Homo sapiens: one gene and its partners. The protein of the gene in region 1 purifies or fractionates together with the protein of each later gene. This does not show direct contact. Each region holds a gene or a part of one and is shown in the gene's direction. Other genes may lie near its edges. The genes, in order: C3orf49, BPTF and CARNMT1.

Evidence for each region.
Region 2: the proteins of C3orf49 (region 1) and BPTF purify together in Homo sapiens (affinity purification with mass spectrometry; one large-scale study listed by BioGRID and IntAct). This does not show direct contact.
Region 3: the proteins of C3orf49 (region 1) and CARNMT1 purify together in Homo sapiens (affinity purification with mass spectrometry; one large-scale study listed by BioGRID and IntAct). This does not show direct contact.

The regions. Positions count from the first base shown.
Region 1 is NC_000003.12:63,818,116-63,822,098, forward strand, and holds the start of C3orf49 (putative uncharacterized protein C3orf49), read left to right. Parts: upstream 1-1,183; 5' UTR 1,184-1,356; coding exon 1,357-1,481; intron 1,482-3,983.
Region 2 is NC_000017.11:67,908,953-67,912,687, forward strand, and holds part of BPTF (nucleosome-remodeling factor subunit BPTF), read left to right. Parts: intron 1-629; coding exon 630-809; intron 810-1,924; coding exon 1,925-3,735. UniProt on the Homo sapiens protein: Regulatory subunit of the ATP-dependent NURF-1 and NURF-5 ISWI chromatin remodeling complexes, which form ordered nucleosome arrays on chromatin and facilitate access to DNA during DNA-templated processes such as DNA replication, transcription, and repair.
Region 3 is NC_000009.12:75,018,078-75,021,812, reverse strand, and holds part of CARNMT1 (carnosine N-methyltransferase), read left to right. Parts: intron 1-3,735.

The DNA.
Region 1 (3,983 bases):
CATCTGCACCCACTCTCCTAGAATATGGATTCCTGGGTCTCATTCCCTGCTGAAGCGGAATTTCTATTTCACTTGAATTTTGCCATAAAACTATGGCTTGGGCACTATGAGTTGTCCCACTTTAGGGATGAGAAAACAAGCATGGGTGGGTTAAAATGAATTGGCCAAGGTCACATAGCTAAGCTAGAAATGAGAACTCATGCATAATTCCCAAATCCACTCTCTTAGCCCCTTAACATTATACACTTCATTCTAGACCATTTTAAAGCTCTTTTCCCCAGTACTGAAACATACAAGACCCTCACTACTCCAAGTGCAGTCTGGCATCATCAGCGTCACCTGCGGGTTTGTTAGGAGTGCAAATTCTTGGATCCCAGCCCAGATGTACTGTATCGAAATCTGCATCTTAAAAAGACCTCCAGGAAGTTTGTGTGCACTTGAAAGCTTGAGAAGTATGCTCCAGATTATTGATTAATGCAAACACAGAAAGCAGAGTAATTCTTGTAACTCCCAGAACCTTTCTAGAGGAGTTTTTCTTGTTAAGCATCTAGTTATTTGACTGAACAACTCAAACCGCGAGAGGGTAACAGGAATAAATCCTAGTGTCTGCTGCCACCTTGTGGTGAGAAGTTCCATCACAGGCAGAATTCGCTCTTCACCACGAAATAAATGGGGCAATGTTGGAAGGGAGGGGTGGATCAGGTCCTCAATTTAGCAATGTACTTTGAGAGACCACTGCAAAATTCCAAGATGTAATGAAAACCACCCTTGGGGTACATTTTGAGATGTCCAAACAACAACTGGCCTTGTCATATGTGTCCCACAGGACACAGAGAACATTCACCAGCTGTAACTGAGAGATCTAACAGAAGCTCAACTTGTGTTAATCAGCGTATCGTTGGTATTCCTATAGGTCCCTACCACTTCAGAGTTCAAATACGCACTTCTGAATGTGGTGGTCAATTAGTGTGTGGGTGTTTTTTGTTGTTGTTGTTGTTGTTTGATTTTTTTTTTCTATCCAAATGCCAGCATTGAGGCAATCAGATCATCATTTCTGTATTTGCCTTGTTCAAGAATCTGTGAAGTGTTCCACAAAGGTCCATGGAATTTCACACAGCTCTGTCAAATACATCACTGGTGACCTCTGTGAAGTTGTAAACAGGGCCAGTCCCACAAATAATGTCTCTAACACCTGGAAGGGAATAAGGGAAAGACTCTAAAAATTTCCTACATATTTTATTCCGAATAGCCCACACCTTGACAGTACATTCAGTCACTGGATGATTTTGTATTGAAGTCTGTAAGTTCAAGAACTAAAACAATCCAAAACGGCTACTACAGGTGAAGTTGAGAGCAATGGCCCAACCTCAGCTGTATCTACCAGAACCCTTTAAGATTGCCTACAGAAAAGTTGGACAGTGCCGAAGATTCCAGCAACTCAAGAAGAAAAATGGCTCATTCAAAAGGAAGGGGATAGAAAGGTAACAGAGATTCATTTCCTTTTCTGTCAAATGAGAGTCTTTGGGTTTGGCATAGTGGCATGTCCTTTTAAGCATTGCATTTAGGAATGAGGACTCTGGATGGATTGGCGGGGAGGGTACTGCGTTGGATCAAGAAATCTAGTGTGACAATGTAAGCTTCATTTTATGATCAGAAACATCTTAATTGTAACAGGGAAAACCTTTCCTTTCCACTCGAAATTAAGTTTCAATGTGGCATAGGAGACTAAAATAAGTTCTGATCCTATGTTGATATTTCAGCATCAGAATTTTGGACATCTCACATCCCGTGAAAATACTATTATTTTGAAAAGTCATTAGTGCATTCTTCGAAATAGGTCCACGATCAGTGCTTTCTTTCTCCTATCCCAGCAATTTGGGCTGCTGAAATATGTACTAATCACATTTCACTATGGACACATTGTTTAATGTAACGTTAAAACTGCCTTAGACTTGCTATTTTTTTGCCAATGACAAAACCATATAGACAGGTATGAAACATCCAAAATATAATATATTTTAATTTGGAAAGTCAGTGTGGTGATTTATTTTCCAATTTCTTTGGGCTTCTCTCTTACCAGGTCCATGGGCTATAGTTCAGACATGTAGAAGTGAGGTGTTTTAATGAGTCCTGGAAGCATCAAAGACCAAGCTTGTGAACTTCCATGGACAAAATAAAATACTGCAGAGATTTCCACTTTCAATGAAAAGTAGGCACTCCGGGGGAAGCAATACAACCAAATAAATTCAGTACCAACACAAAAATATTTAAAAACTTAAGAAGGGGAGGGTTCTGCTCATATCAGAAATTGCAGCAGTGTGTTCCTAGGCTCTGGAGCTAAATCACCTTTGTTAATTATGTTCTAGATAGATTGGGGATGAGAGTGGGGAGGATGGGAATGGGAAACACCTTCTAGAGATTCTGAGACCACTTAGAACTGGGCTTTTAACATGGGTGGTCTTCAAAATTCCTGAATCTCCTGAAACTGTATTTGCATTGTTCTGTGTCACAGTATGTGTATGTGTGTACATGTTTATAGTAGTAGAATCACTTAAAAATTAAATTATTATTAAAGGAGTCTCAGAGGGGTCTACGGGAGATTAATCCTACCCATAAGTTATCTCTGGGTGAATTAGGAAATGGTGCTCCCTCCTCAGGACATTTTACTGCCATCTGCCAGAAAATCATTATAATAACTATACACAAGTCTAAGGATGAAATTGAATAGCACCCCCTAGAAGTCATATATGTACATTTTGCAGAACCCTGCCCTTGGTCCCAGAAGGGAGGCTGCTAGCTTCTCCCTTATTTTGCCCTCTAGTGTGGGCTCCCTGCTTGCCTTTTAAGTTAATGGATTTTCCCCATAAGTTAATGGCTTTTCCCCACTGTTCTGATCCACATGGTAATAAAAAGTATCATTTATGGAATGCTTTTTAAGGTTCCAAACACATGAATTATTTCCTTTTATTTTCATAATTCTGAAAAGATTATGCCCATTTTCAAATGAGAAGACCAAAGCTTATAGAGGTTACATGACATGCCCAAGGTCACAGAGTTAGGAATTGTCCTGAGTTAAACCAATACCATTCAACTCCAGTGTCTAGGCTGTCACTGAACCACTTCCCATATATAATTACAGAAAAAGGCTGAATGATTTGGGTTCTGTTTAGAACAGTGTTTTCCTGGAGAGTAGTACATATGCTACTGATGGTACATGAGATATTTTAGGTAATATATGAAGAACATTGTTAATGGTTATAAATTTGTTTTAATCCATATTAGAAATATATGTTATATATTTAATACAACGTAATAGCATAATATAAAACCTGGGATTTCACCCAGAGAAATGAAAACTTATGTTCATACAAAACCTATAGATAAATGTTTATAGCAGCTTTATTCATAATAGCCCCAAACTGGAAACAACCCAAGTATCCTTCAATCAGTGAATAGTTAAACAAAGTGTGGTACATTCACATCATGGACTATTACTCAGCAATAAAAAGATATGAACAATTAATACACAAAATCTGGATGAATGCCCAAAGAATTATGCTGAGTGAAAAAAAGCATATCTCAAAAAATTACATGATGTATATTTCCATTTACATAACATTCTTGAAAGGACGAGAATTACGCAAACAGAAGACAGATTCGTAGATGCCGGTTTAAGAAAGGGGGGACCAGTGGATAGTGGATGTGGCTATAAAACATGAGGGATCCTGGTGTTACTGGAAATGTTCTGTATTCTGACTGTTTCAGTGTCAATATGCTGGTTGTGAAAATATAGTTTTGCAAGATGTCATCATTTGGGGAAACTAGGTAAAGAGCACACAGAATCTCCCTGTATTTCTTTCTTTTTTTTTTGTTTTTTTGAGACAGAGTCTCGCTCTGTCGCCCAGGCTGGATTGCAGTGGCGCGATCTCGGCTCACTGCAAGCTCTGCCTCCCGGGTTCACAACATTCTCCTGCCTCAGCCTC
Region 2 (3,735 bases), on another chromosome or scaffold:
GCCTCCTGAGTAGCTGAGATCACAGGTGTGCACCACCACACCCAGATAATTTTTGTATTTTTAGTAGAGATCGGGTTTCACCATGTTAGCCAGGCTGGTCTCAAACTCCTGACCTCAGGTGATGCACCCACCTCGGCCCCTCAAAGTGCTGGGATTACAGGCATGAGCCACCGCACCAGCCTATAGTATTAATGTTTATCTTGTAGCTGACTATGTTACTGAATCACAGTTTTTTGTTTTTTTTTTAATTTTTGGACACAGAGCCTCACTCTGTCACCCAGGCTGGAGTGCAGTGGCATGAGCCACCGCACCAGGTCCCCCCCCCCCTTTTTTTTTTTATCCTGCAGTGTTTTAAAACAAATTTCCTAAATCATATTTCACCAAAAATGTTCACAAAGTTTTCTGAAATGTCTGAAGTTCAGGCATTCCTTCTGTGTTTTAGGTCAGCCAGGCATATAGGATTATATGGTACCTTATACTCAATAAGACCTTTGTCTTTTTTTTTTTTTTAAATGAAAAAATGAAACATAACTTGCTGGAAATTACTTGTTTATTTTCACTAAACTTGACATATTAAAGTGCTAATACTCTGGAAATAACGTAAATTATCGTTACATGGTTCTTTTTAGCCAAAAATAATATGGATGAAAATATGGATGAGTCAGATAAAAGAAAATGTTCACGAAGTCCAAAAAAAATAAAAATAGAGCCTGATTCTGAAAAAGATGAGGTAAAAGGTTCAGATGCTGCAAAAGGAGCAGACCAAAATGAAATGGATATCTCAAAGATTACTGAGAAGAAGGACCAAGGTAAGGAGAGTCAGCTGTGGAGGGCAGCCTGGGGGTGATAAGAATGCACTGGATCAGGGTCCCACCACAGGAAAGGTACTGCGTTGTGTTTTCTTGATAACAGCTTTATCAAAACATAATTGATATCCCATACAATTCACCCAATTAAAGTGTAAATTCAGTGGCTTTTAGTATATTCACAAAGTTCAACCATTATTACATCAATCTTAGAACATTTTCATAACCTTGAAAAGAAGCCTCATTCATACCCATTAGCAGTTACTTCCCAACCCCTCCCGAAAGTGCCACCAGCTTAGTGGTCTACTTTCTGTCTCTCTGGATTTGCCTATTTTGGACAGTCCATAGAAATGGAATCAGACAATATGTGGTCCTTTGTGGCTGGCTTCATCCACTTAGCATGGTTTTAAGGTTCATCCATGTTGTAGCATTTATCAGTACTTTCTTTTTGTTTCTGAATAATACTCTGTATGGATATGCCACATTTTGTTATCCATTCATCAGTTGATGGACATTGGGCTGTTTCCTCTTTTGGCTATACGAATAATGCTGCTATGAACATTCATGCAGAAGTTTTTTGTGGCCATGCGTTTTCACTTCTCTTGGCGATATACCTAGGAATGGAATTACTGGATCATATGGTAACTCTGTTTAACCTTTTGAGGAACTACATTGTCTTTTGTAACAAGTCATTTTTAAAAAAAAACTAGATAAGCTAGATAATGCATGTGGCTAGAGATACTTTAAAAAAATATTTTTGGCTGGGCGTGGTGGCTCATGCCTGTAATCTCAGCACTTTGGGAGGCTGAGGTGGGCGGATCACCTGAAGTCAGGAGTTCAAGACCAGCCTGGCCAACATTGCGAAACCCTGTCTCTACTGAAAATTCAAAAATAAGCCAGGCATGGTGGCACATGCCTATAATCCCAGCTACTTGGGAGGCTGAAGCATGAGAATTGCTTGAACCCAGGAGGCGGAGGTTGCAGTGAACTGAGATCATGCCACTGCACTCCAGCCTGGGCAACAGAGTGAGACTCCATCTCAAAAAAAAAAATATATATATATAAATTCCTCCTTTCAGAGTAAAAATTACATTTATATAAATGTCTTTGTTTCACAGATGTGAAGGAGCTCTTAGATTCTGACAGTGATAAACCCTGCAAGGAAGAACCAATGGAAGTAGACGATGACATGAAAACAGAGTCACATGTAAATTGTCAGGAGAGTTCTCAAGTAGATGTGGTCAATGTTAGTGAGGGTTTTCATCTAAGGACTAGTTACAAAAAGAAAACAAAATCATCCAAACTAGATGGACTTCTTGAAAGGAGAATTAAACAGTTTACACTGGAAGAAAAACAGCGACTCGAAAAAATCAAGTTGGAGGGTGGAATTAAGGGTATAGGAAAGACTTCTACAAATTCTTCAAAAAATCTCTCTGAATCACCAGTAATAACGAAAGCAAAAGAAGGGTGTCAGAGTGACTCGATGAGACAAGAACAGAGCCCAAATGCAAATAATGATCAACCTGAGGACTTGATTCAGGGATGTTCAGAAAGTGATTCCTCAGTTCTTAGAATGAGTGATCCTAGTCATACCACAAACAAACTTTATCCAAAAGATCGAGTGTTAGATGATGTCTCCATTCGGAGCCCAGAAACAAAATGTCCGAAACAAAATTCCATTGAAAATGACATAGAAGAAAAAGTCTCTGACCTTGCCAGTAGAGGCCAGGAACCCAGTAAGAGTAAAACAAAAGGAAATGATTTTTTCATCGATGACTCTAAACTAGCCAGTGCAGATGATATTGGTACTTTGATCTGTAAGAACAAAAAACCGCTCATACAGGAGGAAAGTGACACCATTGTTTCTTCTTCCAAGAGTGCTTTACATTCATCAGTGCCTAAAAGTACCAATGACAGAGATGCCACACCTCTGTCAAGAGCAATGGACTTTGAAGGAAAACTGGGATGTGACTCTGAATCTAATAGCACTTTGGAAAATAGTTCTGATACCGTGTCTATTCAGGATAGCAGTGAAGAAGATATGATTGTTCAGAATAGCAATGAAAGCATTTCTGAACAGTTCAGAACTCGAGAACAAGATGTTGAAGTCTTGGAGCCGTTAAAGTGTGAGTTGGTTTCTGGTGAGTCCACTGGAAACTGTGAGGACAGGCTGCCGGTCAAGGGGACTGAAGCAAATGGTAAAAAACCAAGTCAGCAGAAGAAATTAGAGGAGAGACCAGTTAATAAATGTAGTGATCAAATAAAGCTAAAAAATACCACTGACAAAAAGAATAATGAAAATCGAGAGTCTGAAAAGAAAGGACAGAGAACAAGTACATTTCAAATAAATGGAAAAGATAATAAACCCAAAATATATTTGAAAGGTGAATGCTTGAAAGAAATTTCTGAGAGTAGAGTAGTAAGTGGTAATGTTGAACCAAAGGTTAATAATATAAATAAAATAATCCCTGAGAATGATATTAAATCATTGACTGTTAAAGAATCTGCTATAAGGCCATTCATTAATGGTGATGTCATCATGGAAGATTTTAATGAAAGAAACAGCTCCGAAACAAAATCGCATTTGCTGAGTTCTTCAGATGCTGAAGGTAACTACCGAGATAGCCTTGAGACCCTGCCATCAACCAAAGAGTCTGACAGTACACAGACGACCACACCCTCAGCATCTTGTCCAGAAAGCAATTCAGTTAATCAGGTAGAAGATATGGAAATAGAAACCTCAGAAGTTAAGAAAGTTACTTCATCACCTATTACTTCTGAAGAGGAATCTAATCTCAGTAATGACTTTATTGATGAAAATGGTCTGCCCATCAACAAAAATGAAAATGTCAATGGAGAATCTAAAAGAAAAACCGTCATCACAGAAGTCACCACGATGACCTCCACAGTGGCCACAGAATCAAAAACT
Region 3 (3,735 bases), on another chromosome or scaffold:
GCATGCACCACCACGCCTGGCTCATTTTGTTTTTTTATTTTTTTGTAGAGAGGATGGTCTTGCTATATTGCCCAGGCCGGTTTTGAACACCTGGCCTCAAACAGGCTTCCCACCTTGGCCTCCCAAAATACTGGGATTACTGGCATGAGCCACTGCAACTTTGTGTTAAGCAAAACGGAAATGTGCCAAAAGGTTAGAAGTGGTTCCCTCTAGAAGAGGAATTATTAGGCCTTCTTTCCTGAGTACTTCTAATTTCTACATTGTTCATGCTTTGAACATTTTAGTAATATAAATGAGATATACCTACTCCTTTTTTGAACAGTAGATATATATATATAGTATATATATTTATCCTATATATACTATTTATATTATATATACTATTTATACTATATATAGTATGTATATAGTATATATACTGTATATAGTAGATATATACTATGTATATAATATATATGGTATGTATAGTAGTATATATACTATATATAATATATATGGTATGTATATAGTAGTATATATACTATGTATATACTATGTATATATACATATATACTATGTATATACTATGTATATATACTCTATATAGTATATTGAACAGTAGGTATATATATAGTATATATATTTTGAGCGCTTGCTGTGTTTTCAGCTGTTGGGCTAAATCTTTTGAGTACGTTATTTTTCCAATGAAACCCTGTCTGCTAGGCAGAGGAAGGTAATGCTACCTACCTAATTATGAAGATCTTTCAGAATAATCCGTATTAACTGACTTGGTTTAGTCCCTGGTATTTATTAAATCTCAAATGGCAGCTTCCATGATCATCATCATTGTTCATTCTTATCTTGCTTCTGTATATGAGAGAGTTGGACAAAGGAAGGCGGTAATTTGCCTGGTGTCATGTGGCAAATAGGTGTCATAACCTGGATTTCATCCCTGATCTTTCTGACTTCAAAGCTCATTATTATACTCTCCCCAGAGGGGCATGTCAGTGGAGCTTCTGACAACTTGATCTCTTCACCTTATCCCTAAGGGCCCCCCACACCAAGCCACCAAACACAAGCTTGTAAAAACGCGACCAGCCAGGTTTTTGGTTGTTTGTCAGGAGCTTCTTCTGAAGTTCATTACTGTTTGGCAGTTGGAATAATTTGGCAGAGGGTAAAAATAAGAAAATTGTTTGGATGAATGAAGATTTAAGAAACCAAATGACAAAGATATTGAAAATGAAAGTGAAATTGAAAATGAAAATGAAGGCTGGGTGCGGTGGCTCACGCCTATAATCCCAGCACTTTGGAAGGCGGAGGCAGGCAGATCACGAGGTCAAGAGATCGAGACCATCCTGGACAGTATGGTGAAACCCCGTCTCTACTAAAAATACAAAAATCAGCTGGGCATGGTGGCGCGCACCTGTAGTCCCAGCTACTCGGGAGGCTGAGGCAGGAGAGTCGCTTGAACCTGGGAGGGGGAGGTTGCAGTGAGCTGAGATCGTGCTACTGCATTCCAGCCTGGGCAACAGAGCAAGACTCCATCTCAAAAAAAAAAAAAAAAAAGAAGAAAAATGAAATAGAAAATGAAAAATACTTCCATTTTCATTTAATATTGAATTAATACCAAAGAACATTTAAACATATACACATACATATATAGATATAAAATGTAAGGAATATTACAGTGAACACTTATAAATCACCTAGTTTTTAAAACACATTATCCTGTCTCTTTCACCCTCAGAATCATTAACCTGAATTTTTACTTCTTTGCTTTCTGTGTAGTTTTTCCACATATGCTCAGTCCCTAAATAATATTTAGTTTTCTATGAAATGCAATTGTACATTATGTATTTTACTGCAATTGTTTTCAACAAATGTATATGTTCTTGAGGTTATCCAGATGGTGATGGGAGTAACCAATTTCTGCCAAAATATATTTAGAGGTTTGTTCTGGGCCAATATGATAGTGACTGCAGCCTGTGGTTACACGATCTCAAACAACCCTGACAAAGTGCACCCCAGGTGGTCAGGTTACAGCTTGGTTTTATACATTTTAGATACAGGAATTACATGCAAGGTATACATTGATCTCACTCAAAAGGTAGGACATCTTAAAGAGGGGGTTACAAGTCATAGGTGGGTTTTAAGGATTCTTCAGCTGGTAGTTGGTTGATAGAGGTAAGCTATGGTAAGTAGAAAGGAATGCTTGAGTTAAGGGGCTTGTGAAGGCCAAGGTTCTTGTTAAGTTAATTGAAGCCTCCTAGGTAGCAGCCCTCAGAGGGAAGAGATACTAAATGTCACTTTTTAGACTTTAATGTTATCAGGCTCTCAGTTAATCTCTCCTGGATCCAGGAAAGGCCTAGAAAGGAAGGCCTGGTTGCATTAATGGAGATTCTTGACAGATGCATATTTCCCCTAGGAAACATGGCTTTGTGGGGCCATTGAAATCCGTTGGCCATGTGGCAGCCATTTCAAAATGTCAAATATATTTTGGGGTAAAATATTCTGATTTCCTTCTGAGTCTGCTATTTGTCATAAGATGCCATACCAGAGTCAGGTTGGAAAGTAAGTCGTATTATATAGGGTTAATAAAAACCTGTCCAGTGAGATTTCGTAATTAGTAAGGCATGACTCCCCAGGCCTCTTAGTGAAGAACTTGGAGAAGAGAGAAAATATAAAAAAGATCAGCGTTTAGTCTTCACATATTATTGTATGAGCTGTAATTTACTCATTTCGCTGCATTCCACTGTATAACTATACTGTAATTTCTTCATTCTATAGTAACTATATGATAATTTCTGATAGTAGACCTTTGGGTTGTTTCCAGATATTTTATTCCTTTTTTTTTTTTTTTTTTTTATGAGATGGAGTCTCACTCTGTCGCCCAGGCTGGAACGCAGTGGTGCAATCTCGGCTCACTGCAGCCTCTGCCTCCCGCGTTCAAGCGATTCTCCTGCCTCAGCCTTCCAAGTAGCTGGGATTACTGGTGGGCGCCACCATGCCCAGCCAATTTTTATATTTTAGTAGAGATGGGGTTTCACCGTGTTGGCCAGGCTGGTCTTGAACTTCTGACCTCAAGTGATCCGCCCACATTGGCCTCCCAAAGTGCCAAGGGATTACAGGGATGAGCCACTGCGCCCACCTGTTTCTTATCTCTAACAGTGCTATGACAAAGATTGTTCATGTTTCATGGGGCCCATTTGCAAGAGTTTCTAGGATATAATTGCTAGGTCATAAGGCAAGTACCATGCTAAGTTGTACTAGGTAATGCTCTAAATTTAATTTTCCAAAGTGGTTGCGCTGATGTATGCACTTACCATTAGTGTGTAAATGTCCTAATTACACCATATTTTCACCAATCACCAAAATTTGATATAGTCAGGATTTTAAATTTTGGCCATCTTGTCAATATAAAAATGATATACTGTGAGTATATATTTAACTTTAAAAAATGATGTTCTTATGGCCAGGCATGGTGGCTCATGTCTGTAATCCCAGTACTTTGGGCGACCAGGGCAGGCAGATTGCTTGAGCCCCGGAGTTTGAGACCAGCCTGGGCAACATGATGAAACCCATCTCTACAAAAAAATACAAAAATATTAGCCAAGTGTGGTGGCACATGACTGTAGTCCCAGTTACTTGGGAGGCTGAGGTGGGAGGATGGCTTGAACCTGGGAGACAGAGGTTGCAGTGAGCCGAGACTGTGCCACTGCATTCCAGCCTGGGCGACAAGAGCGAAAATCCCTCTCA